Linked DNA regions of Homo sapiens: region 2 is linked to region 1. Evidence: fine-mapped expression QTL. Tissue or cell type: fibroblasts. Region 1 holds a variant in brackets; the other region holds the start of a gene. All regions are shown on one strand. Distances are from middle to middle.

What was found. PIP is the estimated chance that this variant, and not a neighbour inherited with it, causes the effect.
Region 2: CRMP1 starts here. The variant in region 1 is fine-mapped to the expression of CRMP1 in fibroblasts (GTEx, PIP above 0.99).

The regions. Positions count from the first base shown.
Region 1 is chr4:5,743,959-5,751,958 of GRCh38, reverse strand. EVC (EvC ciliary complex subunit 1) reads right to left here. Exons shown (of 21, transcript NM_153717.3): 7 at 6,618-6,755; 8 at 3,653-3,811. Among named protein-coding and RNA genes, the nearest start is that of EVC, 37 kb to the right of the region's middle. The variant C/G (reference allele first, on the strand shown) is at 3,725.
Region 2 is chr4:5,888,770-5,896,898 of GRCh38, reverse strand. It overlaps CRMP1 (collapsin response mediator protein 1), which reads left to right and starts at 3,813. Exons shown (of 14, transcript NM_001014809.3): 1 at 3,813-4,310. The coding sequence starts at 3,930. RefSeq lists enhancers at 5,208-5,951, 5,952-6,696.

The DNA.
Region 1 (8,000 bases):
CTGAGATCAAGTCCAGCACCCCAGGCATGGTGCAGGAAGTTCTGTGGGGCCCTGTCCTGCACACCTGCCTGGTCCCGGCTGCCCAGCCTCTGCACATGCGGGGCCTTCCTCCTGGAACACCCTCACTGCCTCCTCTCACTCCCCTGCCCAGCCAGGTCCTTCTATGTCCTCATGGGTTCTGTGGTCCTTCCCTGCTTGTCCCCACCCTCACTGGTCCCCTACTCTGTTCTCCACTGCCCCAGGGCTCCTGTCTTCGAGGAGGTGATTGTGAGGGGCAGTCCCAGCCTGGACTGAGAGCCCTTGAAGACAGGGGCCAGGCCTGAGTCGCCCACGTCCCCTTGACCAGCCATGGCCACACTGTGCGCTGAGCTGCACTGGCCTCTGTTCCCACAACACAAGACTAGGGCAAGAACATCCCCCAGCGATGGACAAGGACGGCGAGGCTCATTCCAGCAGCCCGTGAACCCTAGAGGGTGCAAGAGGATAAGCGGAGGTGCCAGGTGGGCCGCGGGAAGGGCGGCTCTGGCCACCTCTAAAGAGCATGTTGAGAACCCAACACAGGCTGGCTGGATTCGGCAGTGGTGGTGCAATCGATGTGCTTATATTGGAGGGAGGATGGAAGTGGAGAGAGTGGCGTGAGAAGAGGGATGTGGAATGGGGGAAGGGGGCCCTGATGTGCTCTGAGTGTGGCTGAGTCAACAGTGCCAGGCTCAGACTTGGCTCCCAGGACCTGAGCACAAGCTCCTCACCTGACCCTTGCCACACAGATTTGACATGAGGATTAAGTAAGTCAAAATACGTGAAGCATTGAGAACAACGGCCAGGGAACAGTGAGCCTCCCTGAGTGTCAGCTGTTTTCACCATTATCTACAGCCAGTCCCATCTGTCTTGGCAGCTGTTTTTTTTCCTGTGAGTCTCAAGAAACTGAATCTGATGACCGTCAGGGTCCCTTTGAAGGGCTCTTCCAGTTTTAATATTTACAGATGCACATTTCAGCTCCAAATGCCCAGGCCAGAAAGATGGGATGCCGCCCTGGGAATTCCAACTCTTCTGTGTTCTGAGATACGGAAGCCATCTTTTTTCCCTTTGGTGCCCGGTATGCAGGCATAGTGAATCCATCCCTCTTCTATACAAACATAGACTGTGTAGCCCTGTCCATGCATCATTACAGTAATTTTTTGCTGTCTATTTCTCCTGCTGACATGTGGCCTGCAGGACTCTAATGACTAACAAGTACTGAATGCTTCCTACGTGCCGGGCTCTGCTCTAAAAACTTTACATACTGCCAAGTCTTTAACACCCTCAACTACCCTGTGAGAGAGCAGGTGCTATCATAGCCCCCATTTCACAGAAAATGAAACCAAATCACAGAGAGGTTAAATTATCTGCCCAAGATCACACAGCTAACGAGTGGCAAGACTGCAGTGGGAGCTCCAGTTTCTTCCCTGAGCCTGCATTCCTAACCTCTGCAATATGGTTTCCATGAACAGCATGTGCTACACAGTAGGTGCTCATTAAACATTGGCTGAAGGACAGTCATGCTGTTAAACTGGAGGATCCCTTTCCTTCTTCCTATTTGGAAGTTATTGGCTGATACTCTGGCCAGAGTCAGCTAAGGATGTATTTTCTTTTTTCTGCATCAATATCCTGCTGATAGCAAAAGAAAAAAATATAGGAAGAAAAGTCTTTCACCTTTGCAGAGCATTAATGAGTCAGCAGCCTTATCAAACTGAAATCCAATTCAAAGGGGCTTGGGCAGCAAACCAGGAAGCTTCAGGCCCAGGCTCAGCGATGTCATTAGAGAGGACGGGGATCTTAGGTGGATCACTGAGTGGGCTCCTTATCTGCGTGCTGTGAATAAAATATCTTCCATACCTATCTTTCGGCAGTGTTGACAGAAAAAAAAGGCCATGTGTGTATATACCGAGAAAAAGCACATGAAGTTCTCAAACAACTGTGTGGATGTGGGGGTCTTGTTAAAGTGCAGATCCTGCTTGGGAAGGGTGGAGGACAGGATTCTGCACTCTAACCAGCTCCCAGTGTTGCCGATGCTGTGGTCTGTGGATCACACCTGGAGGAGCAGAGCGGATTGGGAGAGGCATGTGGTGTGCAAGGGGAGGCAAAGATCCGTTGAGGCTTGGCTTTCCCACGGGTCTGAGGAGCTGAGTCTGTGCTGAGGGCAGGGTGGCCACTGCAGGGTTCTGAGCCGAGCTGCCACACGGGCTGGTGCACAGGACGGGGAAATGGGTGCAGGGCAGCATCAGAGGGCTCGTTCCCTGGCCCTAGTACACACTGGCGCACACAGGATGAGCCCAATGTGTACCAAGAGGAACCCAATGGTGACTGGGGTGTTAGGAGTCACTCAGCATCTAGCCAGGCCCTGTCTGTGGCAACTCTTAGCACTATTATTTTATAAATAGAGGAACAGACGCGCAGAGAGGTTAAGTAATGTGTTCAAGATCACACAGCTCCAAACAACAGAGCCCAGAGTCAAAGCTGGATTCGCAGATTTCTCTCCCACGGGTGTCCAACCCTTTGAATGTGAGGACTTTTTTGCTTATCTGTGGTTGGCAGGCTTCACAAAAATAAGGAGGGACCTTTTTTTTTTTTTTTTTTTCCGCTCATCAGCTATCGTTAGTGTTAATGTATTTTATGTGTGGCCTAAGACAATTCTTCTTCTTCCAATGTGGCCCAGGGAAGCCAAAAGGTTGGACACCCATGCACCAGGGGTTTGTATCCCTGGCCTCCCGTCAGAATAGTTCAGGGAGTTTTAAAACCCACAATGCCAGGGCCTCCACTCCAGACCAATCATATTAGAACCTCAGAGTGAAGGCCAGGAAAAGGCATTGTTAAAGAACTCTGCAGGCAAAACAGGGCAATCAGGAAAGTCAATCAATGCTCTGTCTACACCAGTGGGCGTCAACCCCAGCTCCCACCATCGTCATTGGGGAGCTCTAAAAACCCCAATGCCCAGCCAGGTTGCACCCCAATCTGATTAAGTCAGAAACTCTGGGATGGAGACCCATCTGGGGCCCAAGAATCAGTACTTTTTAAAGCTCCCAGATAATTTCAATGTGTAATTTCAGGTTTAGGACCAGTGTTCTATGCTCCAGTAATACTGAGCTGGCCAGAGCCTTCACTCATTGGATAGACGGATGGATGGATGGATGGATGGATGGGTGGATGGATGGATGGATGAGTAAATGGATGGATGGGTGGATTGATGGGTGGATGGGTGGGTGGGTGGATGGGTGGACGGGTGGATGGATGGGTGGGTGGATGGATGGATGGAGGGATGGATGGATGGATAAATGGGTGGGAGGGCAGATGGATGGATGGGTGGGTGGATGGATGGGTGGATGGATGGATGGATGGGTGGATGGATGGATGGATAAATGGGTGGGAGGGCAGATGGATGGATGGGTAGATGGATGGATGGATGGAAGGGTCAATGGGTGGATGGATGGGTGGATGGATGGATAAATAAATAAATGGATGAATGAATTTACTGTTGTTGTTGGTTTTTTTTTCCCTGAGGCTCTATATAACCAGCTACAACATGAATCTGTTAGATTTAAGGATGTCAAGCCTCAGGATTCCATATCTCTAGTCTGAATATCTTTATGTTCCCTCCCGCCCCCTCCAGCATTACCAGAGCCTGCAGCTCCTGAGAATCGCACAATAGCCCTTCGGCTGCAATCATTCTTTCCGTCAGAGTCATCAT[C/G]AGCTGTCGGGCTTTGGAGCTGGAACACTTAAACTGGTCCACAAGAAAGTGCTGGATATTTGCCATCTGTTTCCAGAAAGCTTCCATCTGTGAAATGAGCACAAGCAGCAAGAAGTGAGGTGAAAAACTTACTTAAGAAAGCCAAACGGTGCGTGCTCGGGAATTACAATTCACTCCCTATCACAAACAAAGATTCTAAACAATTCTACAGTTTCAGTGAGTTTATCTTGGCAACAATCACGTTCTACAGTGAAGTTCTTTCTGGTTCCATTGTCTGGTTCCAGTGTCAGTCAGTTTTGCAATGGTGTTTCAGCAGACACGAGAGCACTGCTGCTAAGGAAAGAAAGCAGTAGCTTGTCCAGCCTACAGACTCTTGCACAGGTCATTACAGCTACCTAGGGGCCGATGAAATGTGACAATGTGCTCATGGAAGCTTTGGCAATTTTAAATGGGATTAAATACTTCCTGGAAGTAAAAGCATAAACAGATGTTTAAATATTAGTTATTGTCCTAAAAGTACAAAAGCTTAATATGGCAGAGAGGATGCTGACCATGAAAACATTTTGCTTTAAAATCTTCCCTCCCCCTCATTTTATCAGGAGCAGAGCTGGGAATTCCCAAGTGGCTTAGAATGCAGGAGGTTTAATTGAGTCATCACAGCCAGTCAGAGCTCTAAGGACAATGACACTAGGAATCGGAGCAACTTTCCCTCATGGCCCACAGGCTGTTCGCCAGGCTCTGTGCTTCACACATTTGATATCATGATAAAGTATGTATCTAGAGGTGTAGGAACAGGCTCGGGGGAGTTAGGTCACTTGTCAGAGGTCATGGACCCAGTGAAAGCCCGGATTTGGTTCAGGTCCATTTAACTCCACGGCTGAGGTTGCCTCCATCTTGGCTCAGCCTCTGAGAGGCTGAAATGGACACTTCTGGCTGGACTGGGCATGGGAGGGGGCAGGGGTTAGTGTCACCAGAAACCCATGATTTTGTTGCTGTGACTCAAGATCATGAAACTCTGTCAGCCTCAACTGCGGTGTCGGTCTGGCTCTGCCAGGAGGAAGCCTGCACCCAGATGAACACCCCTCATCAATGCGGCTCCCCATCTCAGGGCCCCATTGCCTCCCAGTAAACCCCATACATGCTGCTCCTCCTCTCATCCCTGCCAGGAGGGACCTCAAACCTGCCTGACACCCTCAGGCTCTCACCCTGCTCTTCCCCTTGGAGCCATCAGATGACCTGCCTTCCACCTGCCACGTGACTGCAGACTGTCACCTGCCAACTCTACACAGCCCGCTCTGCTTACAAACTCCTGATTCTCTTGGCGTCCATGACATGATTTTCTCCTGCTTCTGCAAAGCCCATCCAATTCCTCCTCTGCTTTCTTGTCCCAATTCTTCTCATCCGCTCCTCCTTAAATATGGGCAGGATCCAGGATTTGGCACCAAAGCTCTTTTCTCTTCCCATTTTACACACCATTTCTAGGCCAGAGGTCACCATTTTTGGAGGTCACCAATACTTTGGAGAATCTTATGAAAATTCTGAACCCTGTCCCTGAGAAAGGCAGACATGGACAAGATACTGCACACAGCGTTGGGGGTTCTGTGGACCACCGGAATCCAGGCTGGCCCTCTTCCTTAGCATCCTGGCCCACAGTTCTAAGAACATTCTGGCCCTCAAAGTCCTCTAACCTGGGCTCTCATGGAGACCCTCCATCTCCAAGCCTCTCCTCTCAATATTGGACCTATTCAGAGGACAGGAGCATTGGCTCCCTCCCTCCCATGAGCATCTTGCTCTGGGGCGCTTATTTCAGCAGCACTGACCCTGGACCCCCTCCTCCTCCCCACCTGCCGCCCCATGGTAGACCACCACAGCTTCTCTCACACGTTTCCTCACCTCTCCATCCTACTGCAGTTGCCTTAATAAAGTTCCTGCTGGATTAGCCCAGTAGCTCTTCACCACCCTCCACTCAGTGCCTGGGCAGCCCTTCTAAAGCAGAAGCTGAAGCCAGCCACCCCCTGCTTCAAAGCTTCAGTGACTCCCACCTCGCTGGCAATAGACACTCCCATCTCGCTGGCTTAAGACACAAACAAGCCCTCTGGCCAGATCCCTCTGGCTTTACCTTACCTCGACTTGCTCTCAGCCCTCTTTAGCTCCCATCTCTGCCCCACCACTGGCCAGCACCCACACTTCTCCCGGCCAGCCTCTCCATGGTCCCTTCTTCTACGGAGGCTTTCCTAAGCCTGGGGTAAAATGAACTCTTCCCTCCACTGTGCCTGCCTCGGGCCTTCTCCTGTGCTTCCTTCTATCACAAGATGTGTCACTCTGTGAAGCCCTCATCTGTTCACCTGTTTGTCTCTCCTGGCCTCTCTCAGGCAGGGCCATGTCTAAATGATTTTTGAGTCCCCAGTGCCCAGCACAATCCCTGGTGAAGAGCAAGTGCCAAGGACATGTTTGTTTAATACATAATATATGAACAGGGGGTGGTGGAACCCAAAAGAAAAGAAAAACGATGTTTCAGAGAAGCCATTCTGTCTGGAATTTAAAACTTGCTTTCACGAGTGATGCCTAGCAGCTTTCTTCTACTCTATTCCAAAGGGCAGTGATGACATCAAGGGTTATAGCAACCTTTGCTTTGAATGATAAAAAGACCAATCTGAAATTTAAATGAGGATAATTCATGATATAAAAAATAAACCTCCCTTTGTGAATCTTTGCTGCTTAATTACTTCTTCCCTATCACTTAGCATCAGAAACTGGATCCTGCCTCTAGGGCAGAATGCGATAGGGGAATTCAAGTATTAGGCACACTTCTAACTATCATCTCTCTAATGTAGCCAATTTAACTGTTTTAGGAACCAAAATTTGTGTACAGGAAAGAAAGTCTGGCACGCACATTATCGATTAGCTGTTCAGAGTATTCTCTCTCCTTCTTTTCCACATCAGCCAGGGTGATGTACTCAGAGTCACCAGCCCCCGACATTTCTGTGTTTGACAGTTTGACCTGAAGTCCCTTTTCTAGTTCCTCCAAATCCTGAAGAAGAAGAAGAAAAAAGAAAGCAAATAAACAAAGAAAAAGTTTAGCGTGTCTTAAATTCTAGAAAAATAAATGCTTTTATTTTTCAAATTTCACAAAATATTTTTAAACAATAGTTAAATGCTCTGGGGGTTGTTGTACATGAGGTTTGACCCATTTTCTCATTAAACATAGAGCCTCAAGAATAATGGATTATTTTCCTCTATATCCTCCCTCAAAAAAAAAAAAAAAACTAGACCATACTTTAAAAATCAATAAAATAGTATCTTTCAATCATTATGAAGTCCTGGAAAATATCATGACATCCAGTGGGTTGGGAAGGAATGTTTCTTTGCTCCTCTTCTGGTTTTCCTGGGAAAGAACAACACCCCAGGGCAGGAAGTGGTGTGTATTTGATTGGTTGGTTTAAAGGCCAGAAACTTGCCCAGCCTCTTCCTGTTTGTGATGGGCCAATCAGGGGAGGCCATTGCTCTGGTGTGATATCAGCCTAGAGTGAGCTGGGTAGCCAAGGCCCTGTTTCTGTGTGGGGAAGCCTGAGGTGGCCCAGCATTGCCCGTGACTAGCTAGGCAATTGAGTGAATTCTGGGATTCAGTATTAGGAAGCCATGATAGCTGTGCATGTAAGCCACATCGTCCAAGCTGGCCTCTAATCAGTAACAAAGCTACATTTCTATATCTGTCCTCCTGACTCTCTCAAATGATTCTGAACTCAGGAAGGAAAAGGTGAGTCCTAAGTATAGACTCACAAACCCCAAGATAGTGTGTGGGAGGCAGTTCTATTTTCTCTATATTCATTGTCACATAGCCAACAGTGTGGCATGGGTCAAGGTTCACTAGGAAAAATAACATTGATATAAACTACTATTGAAGACCCAAGCTGAGGCCATATGTGATTTCTAATCCTCACGGCATCTCTGTGAAAGAGAAATTATGACCCATTTCCAGGTGAGAAAGCTGGTTTATGGAAGGTAAGATAGTTTGTCCAAAGATGCCCAGGCAGGAAGGGGCAGTGCCAGGCTTGTCCTTACTCTTCCAAATTCTGGGCACTCCTTGTCCTCTTCTGAAAGTTTTAAGGTCATTCCAAGTGTTAAATGAAATTATGCATTTAAATCACTTGGCTAGCCTATCTCAACAAATAGTAGCCACTATTATAATTAACATGCTTGCTTAAGTTCAGACAGCCTTGTTTAACTCGTAGAGATGGAATTTGATCTGAGGTCTGCAGACTCCAAGGCTCTTATT
Region 2 (8,129 bases), 140 kb before region 1:
TAAAAATCAAATGAGCCTGGATTTGAACTGCATCTCTGTCACTTGCTGGCCATGTAACCGAACATGTTTACTTGTTTAACTTCTCTGAACATCTTTTCTTATATCTGAGATGAGGACAATAATCCATTACTATATACCTGATGATAAACTACAATCCCCTTTCCTTCATTTTTTGAAAACATTCTTTTTGCAATGAATGAACGAATTTTTTTTTTTTTTTTGGTTTGCCGAAACAAAATCCACATCGGACCTGAACTGGCCTCTTGTCCTCTCCCATCTGACGTGTCCCTTTCTGTTCTCTGCCATCACCCAGGAAGAAGGTTTCATGTCTGACATGATGAGCTCAAGGTTTGTCCTTCACCAAATGTAGTGCTGTAATTCACTTATAAGAACTCCTTCCCAGGAGGACTAGGAGCAGTTGGAGGATGGGTTGGGGGATGGGGGAGGTCACAGCTGTCGTCAGGATGGGGGCAGTTATCTCAGGCTTCCCCTGCTGCCTCTGTTGGTCCCTGGCAAATATTGCTCCTTTCTGTCTCCGTGCAAGCTGGAGGGTGCATTTCCAACTTTATACCCTGGGTTTTGTTTCCTTCCTCCCTTTCTCTGTTGCGCTTGGGTTACTGACCTTGAGATGAGATGGTGTGGAAAAAACTCAGACAAACCTGAGTTGAAATCCCAGGTTAGTCACTTCCCGGTGGTTAACCTGAGCAATGGGCTTAAGGTTTGTCATCCTCAGCGCTCCAGCCTGAAGATGGAAGTGGCCTGGTTCGCCACGTGGGGCTGCCTGAGGGAGCCAGCAGTGTATAAGGCAGAGCATGATGCACGGAAATGAACTGTGTGTGCAAGGACCCTTATACACAGTATGCAGTTTCAGGAGGGTCCGATCGCCTCCTCTGCATGGGGAGAAAAGAGTGAGAGGAAGTGATATAAAGTCAGTGACACGCAGTGGGCGCCACAAAGGTGTGTTAGATGAATGTCGAATGATTAGTTGCCCAAGACTGCATGCAAAACAGGATTCTAACTCAACCACCTAGACTCTTCTGCCTAAACTAGGTCCCTTTATCTCTTATCTCCCAGTGGGACCACCTCAGTCAGGCTCTTGGGGAGAGGAAAGGGTAGTTGTTTCGATGTGGACTCTGGCACCAGACTACTCTGTTTAAACCTCGAAGTCTTACTTGCCAGCTGTGACCCTGGACAGGTTATTTATGTCTCTGAACCTCAGTTTTCTCATCTGTAAAATGAGGCTAAAATGGCAGTTTCAAGGTTGCTGCGAGGCATAAAAGAGTTACTATCTGTTAGGTGCTTACCATGGTCCGGGCACGTAGTAAACTTTCTATAAGCAGAAGCTATGAAGATCCTTTCCTGCTTCTGCATAAAGACAGCACTTTCTCAGCTCCTTCCTTGCGTCACTCCCTCTAGTCTTGGCAACTGCCCAGCCCTTTCTCACAATGGAAAGGGTTTTCTTTAGAAGCAGTAAGATTTCCATCACCACCAACAAAGCCTGAGAGACTGTGTCCTCAAGATGTTGAGAGCAGATTCAAGCATGCAGTAGGAGGCCTGGCCTCCAAAGTTCCACCTAACTCAGACTTTTGAGTTTTCTGATATTTCTCTGGGTTATGTCACCCTGAACATTTGTGGGGTTTTAGAAGAAATTTCTATGTGGTTTTCGACATGAATTGTTCTTGCCTGGAATGGGCTGGGAATAGTATTTCACAGGACAGAGAAAAATTTTCATTGAAAAATCGAAAACACTTGCAAGATAGCCTGGAGGCTGATGGGCCTCAAGAGGAGTGTCTGTGGCAAATCTGCACAGTGGACCCAGGGACACAAGGAGAGAGGAGCCAGGATGCAGCTGCGGTGGGTGGAAGGTAGATGGAGGCTGTGTGTGGAACTTTCTGTTCTCGCATTCAGCACTCTCTCCCCCATGAGAGTAAACACTTGTTGAAGACAGAGACTTAGAAATACTCATCTGTGTCCCCACACTAGCCTCTCTCTCAAGCACAGAAAAATAACTTGCTAAATGCCCACCGAGTGGATGAGCCCACGCTCTAGGCCTGGCTGAACCTCCTTGAGATTGAGGCCCTGAGGGAGCCATTTCACATCTCCCCTCCTGTTTCCTCTTCCAAGAGGGGGCCGGTAAAAATACCTACCTGCTGCACAGACCCCTTGTTGCAGGGTTGAAAGACAGTAGCTTCAGGGAGGTGTCAGCTGAGGCCACGGATCCGACGGCCCCAGGATCCTCAGTCCATGGGGCCCAAGAGTCATAAAACAAGAACATGAATCCATCTGTCTGTCTGGTATTCCTGGAGCTTGGTCACGCTGCGGGAGCTCTGGCTTGCAGCTGGCAGGGCCCGGGGTTGAAGGGACAGCTCCCAGCATGGAAGGCTATGGGTGGGGGGACATTGCAAGAAGCACTGATGCTCCCCTCTGCAGTCCCCACCCAGTCCTGACTTTGCTTGTCTAGACTGGCTCGAGGAGGGGGTCGGCAGCTGGCGATTCTGCCTCTCCAGGAAGTGCAGCTGGGACTGTAGGGTCCCCAGGGACTTGCAGGATCCTCTGCCTGATAATCGTGGAGAAATAAGGGAAGGTGTCTATAGGAGGCAGGTGGTGCCTGGCCTTAGAGGAGAGCCCCAGCAGAGCGACCTCCACGACAGAGAAACCCCAGAACGCCCAGACTGCAAGCTCCAGGAGCAACAAAAGTGGACTGTGCCCCTCGAATGAGGGAATATCTGTCTGTCTGGTTGACTGCCAGCTGTGTGTGTGTGGTCATCTCTGTCTCTGTGTGTCTTTCTCTGGAGCGTTTTTATTTAAGCTTTTGACTTCCTTTATTACTGGTGTGGACTTGTGTGTGGGCATCCTGTTGCCAGTTTATGATGCACATGTGTGGAATCGCCCTGAGCTTGCCTTTGATATTGGTGTGTTGTGTGGTGTCATTGGCGTGCACGTGTATGTGTGTGTCGCTGATTCTCATGCAAGAATGTGCTTCTCTTATGTGTCTGTCGGAGTGTGCCTCTAGCATGTCCCTCTTGGCTGCTGCACCACCTTTCCTGGCCCTTACCACCTCTTGGCCCACCATATGGGTGCTTTTGTATCCAATTCCCCTCCTTAGCAGGTCAGCTCCTGGAGGGCAGGCACTTGGTCTCTTTTGTCCATGGCTCTGTTCCCAGCTCCTACAACAGTGCTAGGCACTAGTGGGCGCTCAGCAAAATAAAACTGACGGAATGAACGGTGTGTCCAACGCATGTGCCTCTCCAGTTGTGCAATTAATCTTGGTGTGATACTGTGTGTGAGTGGGGTTGTGAGACAATGAGGATTTCTGTTGTGTGTTTGTAATGAACTCGGAATGTGCACAAGCATATATGTGTATGTGTGTGCAACATTGAGTATGGTGTGCATGATCGAGCCCCTGTGTATCTCTGGAGAGCATGTGTGATTGACTCTCGTGTGTGTGCCAGCATGTCTGTGCATCTCTCATGTGTTTGGCGTAATTGTCTGGTGTGCAGGTATGAACCCGCGTGTGCCTCCAGAGCGTGTGGGCGCGCGAGTGTACGCACACGGCTCCTGCCCCGCGCTCTCCTCGCGCCCTGCGCTCCGCCTGGGGGCGGAGAGTGGGGGGTGCGGCGAGGGCACTGCGGTGCCGCGGCCCGCCCTCCGCGCTGCGGCTCGGGAGCGTCACCGTCCCTCCCCGCCCCAGCCGCGATCCCCGCCTCCTGGTCCTTTGTAGCTGGCCGCGCCGCTAGCCCGCAGCCGCCCAGAGGCCCCGCCCCGGCCCCGCCCCGGCGCGCGCCACGCCCCGCCCCTCCCCTCCCTGGGCCGCAGTCGCGCCCGGGCCGCCGCAGGCCCGCACCGAGGCGCGGAGCGCGGCGCACGGCGGTGCCCAGGGCCGCGGGCGGGCAGGCGGGAGCGCGGTGGGTGGCCGGCCTTGGACGGGTATGGCGGACCGGCGGCGCGCGTGGAACACCGAGGACGACCTGCCCGTGTACCTGGCGCGGCCGGGCAGCGCGGCGCAGACCCCGCGCCAGAAGTACGGCGGCATGTTCGCCGCGGTGGAGGGCGCCTACGAGAACAAGACCATCGACTTCGACGCCTACAGTGTGGGCCGCCGCGGCTCGGCGCGCACGCCGCGCAGCGCTGGCCGGCCCGACGCGGTCGGGCTGCCAGGGCCGGGAGGCAGCGAGGACACGGCCAGCGACGTGAGCGAGCCCTCGGGCTCCGCGGTCAGCTCTCCCGGAGAGCGCGACGAGCGGCCGCCGACGCTGCGCATCCGCCGCCCCGCGCCCCGCGACCTGCCCCTCGGCCGGGACAATGGCCAGGTACCCTCGGGGCGCGCGCGGGCCAGACGAGGGGGGCGGGCCCCGGGAGGACCCAGGGCATGGGGCGCCCGAGGGCCATGCCCGGGCCCCGGTGTTGGGGCAGCGGCCGCCAGGCTGGGGAGAGCCACGGCGCGGCCCCTCCCCCACCTCATCATGCAAGAGGTTCCCAGAGCTGGGGCGACTCGGTCGGGGCTGGCCGGCGTGGTCCGTGAGACTCGGAAGGGATCGCCCGGGTCCAGTCCCGGCTCCTCTTCTACAGAAAGGGAGAGAGGTTCTGAGAGGGGAAGTTGGCTAAAGCTACCGCATGGACGCTTAAACGCGAAGGAACCTCTGGGATGAATCTAACCCAGGCCCCTCATTCTGTTTTGTGAAAAGAACTGGAGCTCCGTTCCGTGTTGGTCCATTCATCCATCCACTCAGTCGGTAGTAATTATAGAGCACCTACTGTGTGCCGGGCCCCGGGAGAGGTTCCGCGAGTCGCCTGCGGCCACACAGCTTAAAGCTGGAAGGAGCTTTTTTTCCGAGCGCTCCCCTCATGCTTGCTGGGGGGAAGGATTTGGTTAAGGATTTAGTTCGTCGGGCAGTTGGAGCCGTAAACCCCTACCCTCAAGCGCCAGTAGATTCAAGGGGCACTCCTGAGCTCCACAGCACACACCGATGTGCCTGCTTCACAGAGCAAGGTGGAGGTAGAGCTGGGATTTGAACTGGGGTCTCTGGCCTCCCGGACCTGAGCATGGGGCCGGGAGGATCAGGGAGAGGGAACGCTAGGGCTTGGGCCCTGCGGGTATTCTCTCTTGAGCTGGGGGTCACCAGGAAACTGGGGGAAGAAGGGCGGATGGACGGCGTAGCCTTTGGATGGACCGACGAGAGCCAGGGTCAGGTGCCAGAAAAACGGAAGTTGGAGCATCCGAGGGCTGGGGAGCTTTCGAATTGGTCCAGACCTGGATGCCGGAGAACTGCTAGGTGCCAGGCCCAGGGTAGGCGCTAGGTCCCTGGCTCAGCAACCTGGCCCCACCCTCCAGAAGTTCCCAGGCTAGGGTGAGCGACGGATTCATTGTGAGAATTAAATCAGTTAATGCCGGTCGGTAGTGAGCATTCAATAAATGTTTGTTGTTGACTTTTATTACAATCATTATCATTTTAATTAAACCTTCCCCTCTTAAATGCTATGAGTGACCCAAAGTGAGCCTGGAGGGAAGCAGAGCTTGATCGGGGCAGATATCTGGGAGGGCTTCCTGGAGGAATAGGAGCAGGGAACTGGTAAACACGGTGGTGGGCCTCTTCGGGCCCCATCCCTTCGCGGGCGGGCTGTTGCTCCAGAGCTCTCCGTGGTCCTGAAGCCGGAGCCTCGCGAGGGAGAGGTCCAACAGCAAGGGTGTGTGTGTGTGTGTGTGTGTGTGTGTGTGTGTGTGTATGTGTGTGTGGTGGTGGGGTGATCAGAAAGGGAGATGGTGCGAGAGTCCAGCTTCCTCTTCCCCCACCCCTTCTGTATCTCCCCCTGTCCACTACCTTCCCTGGTGGTCCGACCTCTCTTGGGATCCAAACTCCCGAGCCCGATGGGGAGGCTTCTGGGCCGCGGGCCGAGAAGCGGGACCAGCACCAGGGAATCCGGGTTTCCAGCCAAGGCGCTTTGCTCTCTTGGGCCTCAGCTTCTCCATCTGTCAGATGGGGGTGGCCGTCTTCTTCCGGCCTTCCTCAAAGCGTGGTGGAGTACTAGGGAGGCGAGGGCGCTTTGTGCACGGCCCGTAGCTGTCCCAAGGAGAGTTCCTCTGGAACTGCGGTCAATGTCACCAACGCCAGCATCTCCCCCAGGGCGCAGCCTGGGCCAGCCCCGCAGCTGCGCCCTGACCCTTGGGGACGCTGGTCGCTTCACCTCTCCCGTTCCTCTCCCCTACTCCTTCCTCTTCTCCCTGTGGTCCCCTCTGCCTTTCTCCATGGCTTCTCAGGCACCGGACAAAAGGCAGCGCCTCTGGCGCTCCCGGGGCTCCGAAAGCACTCGAGCTTCGCGACTGTGGAACTCAGGGGCTCGCGATCTCCACGGAGGGAGGGTTTTACTTTCTGCCGGCAGAGCGGCCTTGAGGCTTGGGTTACAGTGGGCTCGGGTTCCGGGGCGGGCCTCACCGCTCCAGGGCTTCGCAACGGGTGCCCCGGCCCTTCCCCCCCCGCCCACCAGGCTTCTCCCTGGGCTGCAGGAGGGGTTTCTGCGGCGCAGGCGCAAGGATTGCCGCTGCCGGAGGCTGAGCGGCTGCGGCGCTTTGTACCGGCGAAATCTGCTTGGGAGCAGCGATCTGTTTGGCCAGTGGCAGGCGGATGCTCCTCCCCCTGATACGCACGTGGTCTTGTCCCTTGCTGTAGGGGCTTTCTGCTCAGATCTCCAGACTGACCCCAGGGAACGCCCTGGTACGGGGAACCTAGGACTTAACAACTCCAAGGAAGGGAGTGTAGGAGTTGGGGAGGGACAGTGTCCCCATCTGCAATTTCCGGTCATTGACAGGGATTTTAGGCCCCGCTGAGAGCCAGGGATGCATGAATGCGTGGAGGGAAATGAGTTGTAAACAGAGTGTAGGGGAACCTGGCATCTCCATGCTGCTTTGCTGCAGCTAATATGTTTTGCACCCGGGGTACATCATTTTACCTCTGTAAGCCTCAATTTCCTGTCTGTAAAATGGGAAAATTATGCCTAGTGTTCCTGGGATACTGAGCTGGCTTCTCTGTGAAGCTAAAACCTCACCTCTATTTTAAGGCCCAGGTGTCTCTGGCCTCCTGCCCTGGATTAGGGGACTGGCCCCTGGGGTGGTGAAGGTCAGGGCCCCAGCCCCCAACCACAGTGCTGGGGGAGCTGTACCAAGCCTAGGCCACCCTCGCTCTGGATGGCAACTTGAAAGCAGAAAAGATGAGTAGTTTCATAGGACCTGTGGGGTTGGATTTCGCATGCAGAAAATGAACAACGAAGTGGTGGACAAGGTTGGTGTTTTATTCTGCCTGGGAACTTGGGGCACCTGTCCAGTGAGGTTGGGGCTTGCTGGGGCTCCCCCTTTTCCTCCATCTTCTTTCATCTTTTCCCCTCTGCTGTTACGGACCTTGTCAAGCTGTGACCTGGCTTCCTGCCCACCTCCCTCTGGAGCAACATCTGGATCATGGACTCCGGGGCTGGTGTCCACAGTGCTGGGAGGCAGGAGCACCCTAGTCCTCCTCCTGACCCCCAGCTTGTCCCCAGGGCTGTGGAGACCTTGGTGCCAGTGGCCCAGCCCTCCAAACACCTGCTGTCTTGGAGGCAATTCTGTGGGGTGACCTGGTGGCCCCAGTGTCAGGCTGCTGTGTGATGAGGGAGCTGCTGTTGGAGTAGAACAGGTCAGCATTAATTAAGGCCGTACCCTTCTGTCCCTGCTGTTCCCTCTGCCAGTTAGGGGGCTCCACCTTAGAGGCCCCCAGGGAGGGCTGGTTCAATGCTAGGATGGAGAGGGTGGCAGGGAGAGGCTTCGTGGTGGGGAAGGCATTGGAGATGGGTCTAGGGGAGTGGACAGGCTTTTGTCTGGGGTAGACTATTCAGGGAGAGGGTACAGCGTGAATAAAGGCTTGGGGTCCGAGATGGAAAAAGTGCTTGGTGCATTCAGGGAGAGGCACTCGGGAAGGATAAACGGAGGCTATGGAAGGAGAGGCAAGAGGGGAGCGGTCCTTGGGCGCGATCCTGGAGGGACAAGAACGTTCCCAGCAGCTTGGGCCGATCCTTGGCCCCCGTCCCACACTCCCTCCCCCCACACCCCCGCAGATGTTCCGGGGAGGCCTCCAGACGCGCGGCCACACACCTGTGGCGCCGCC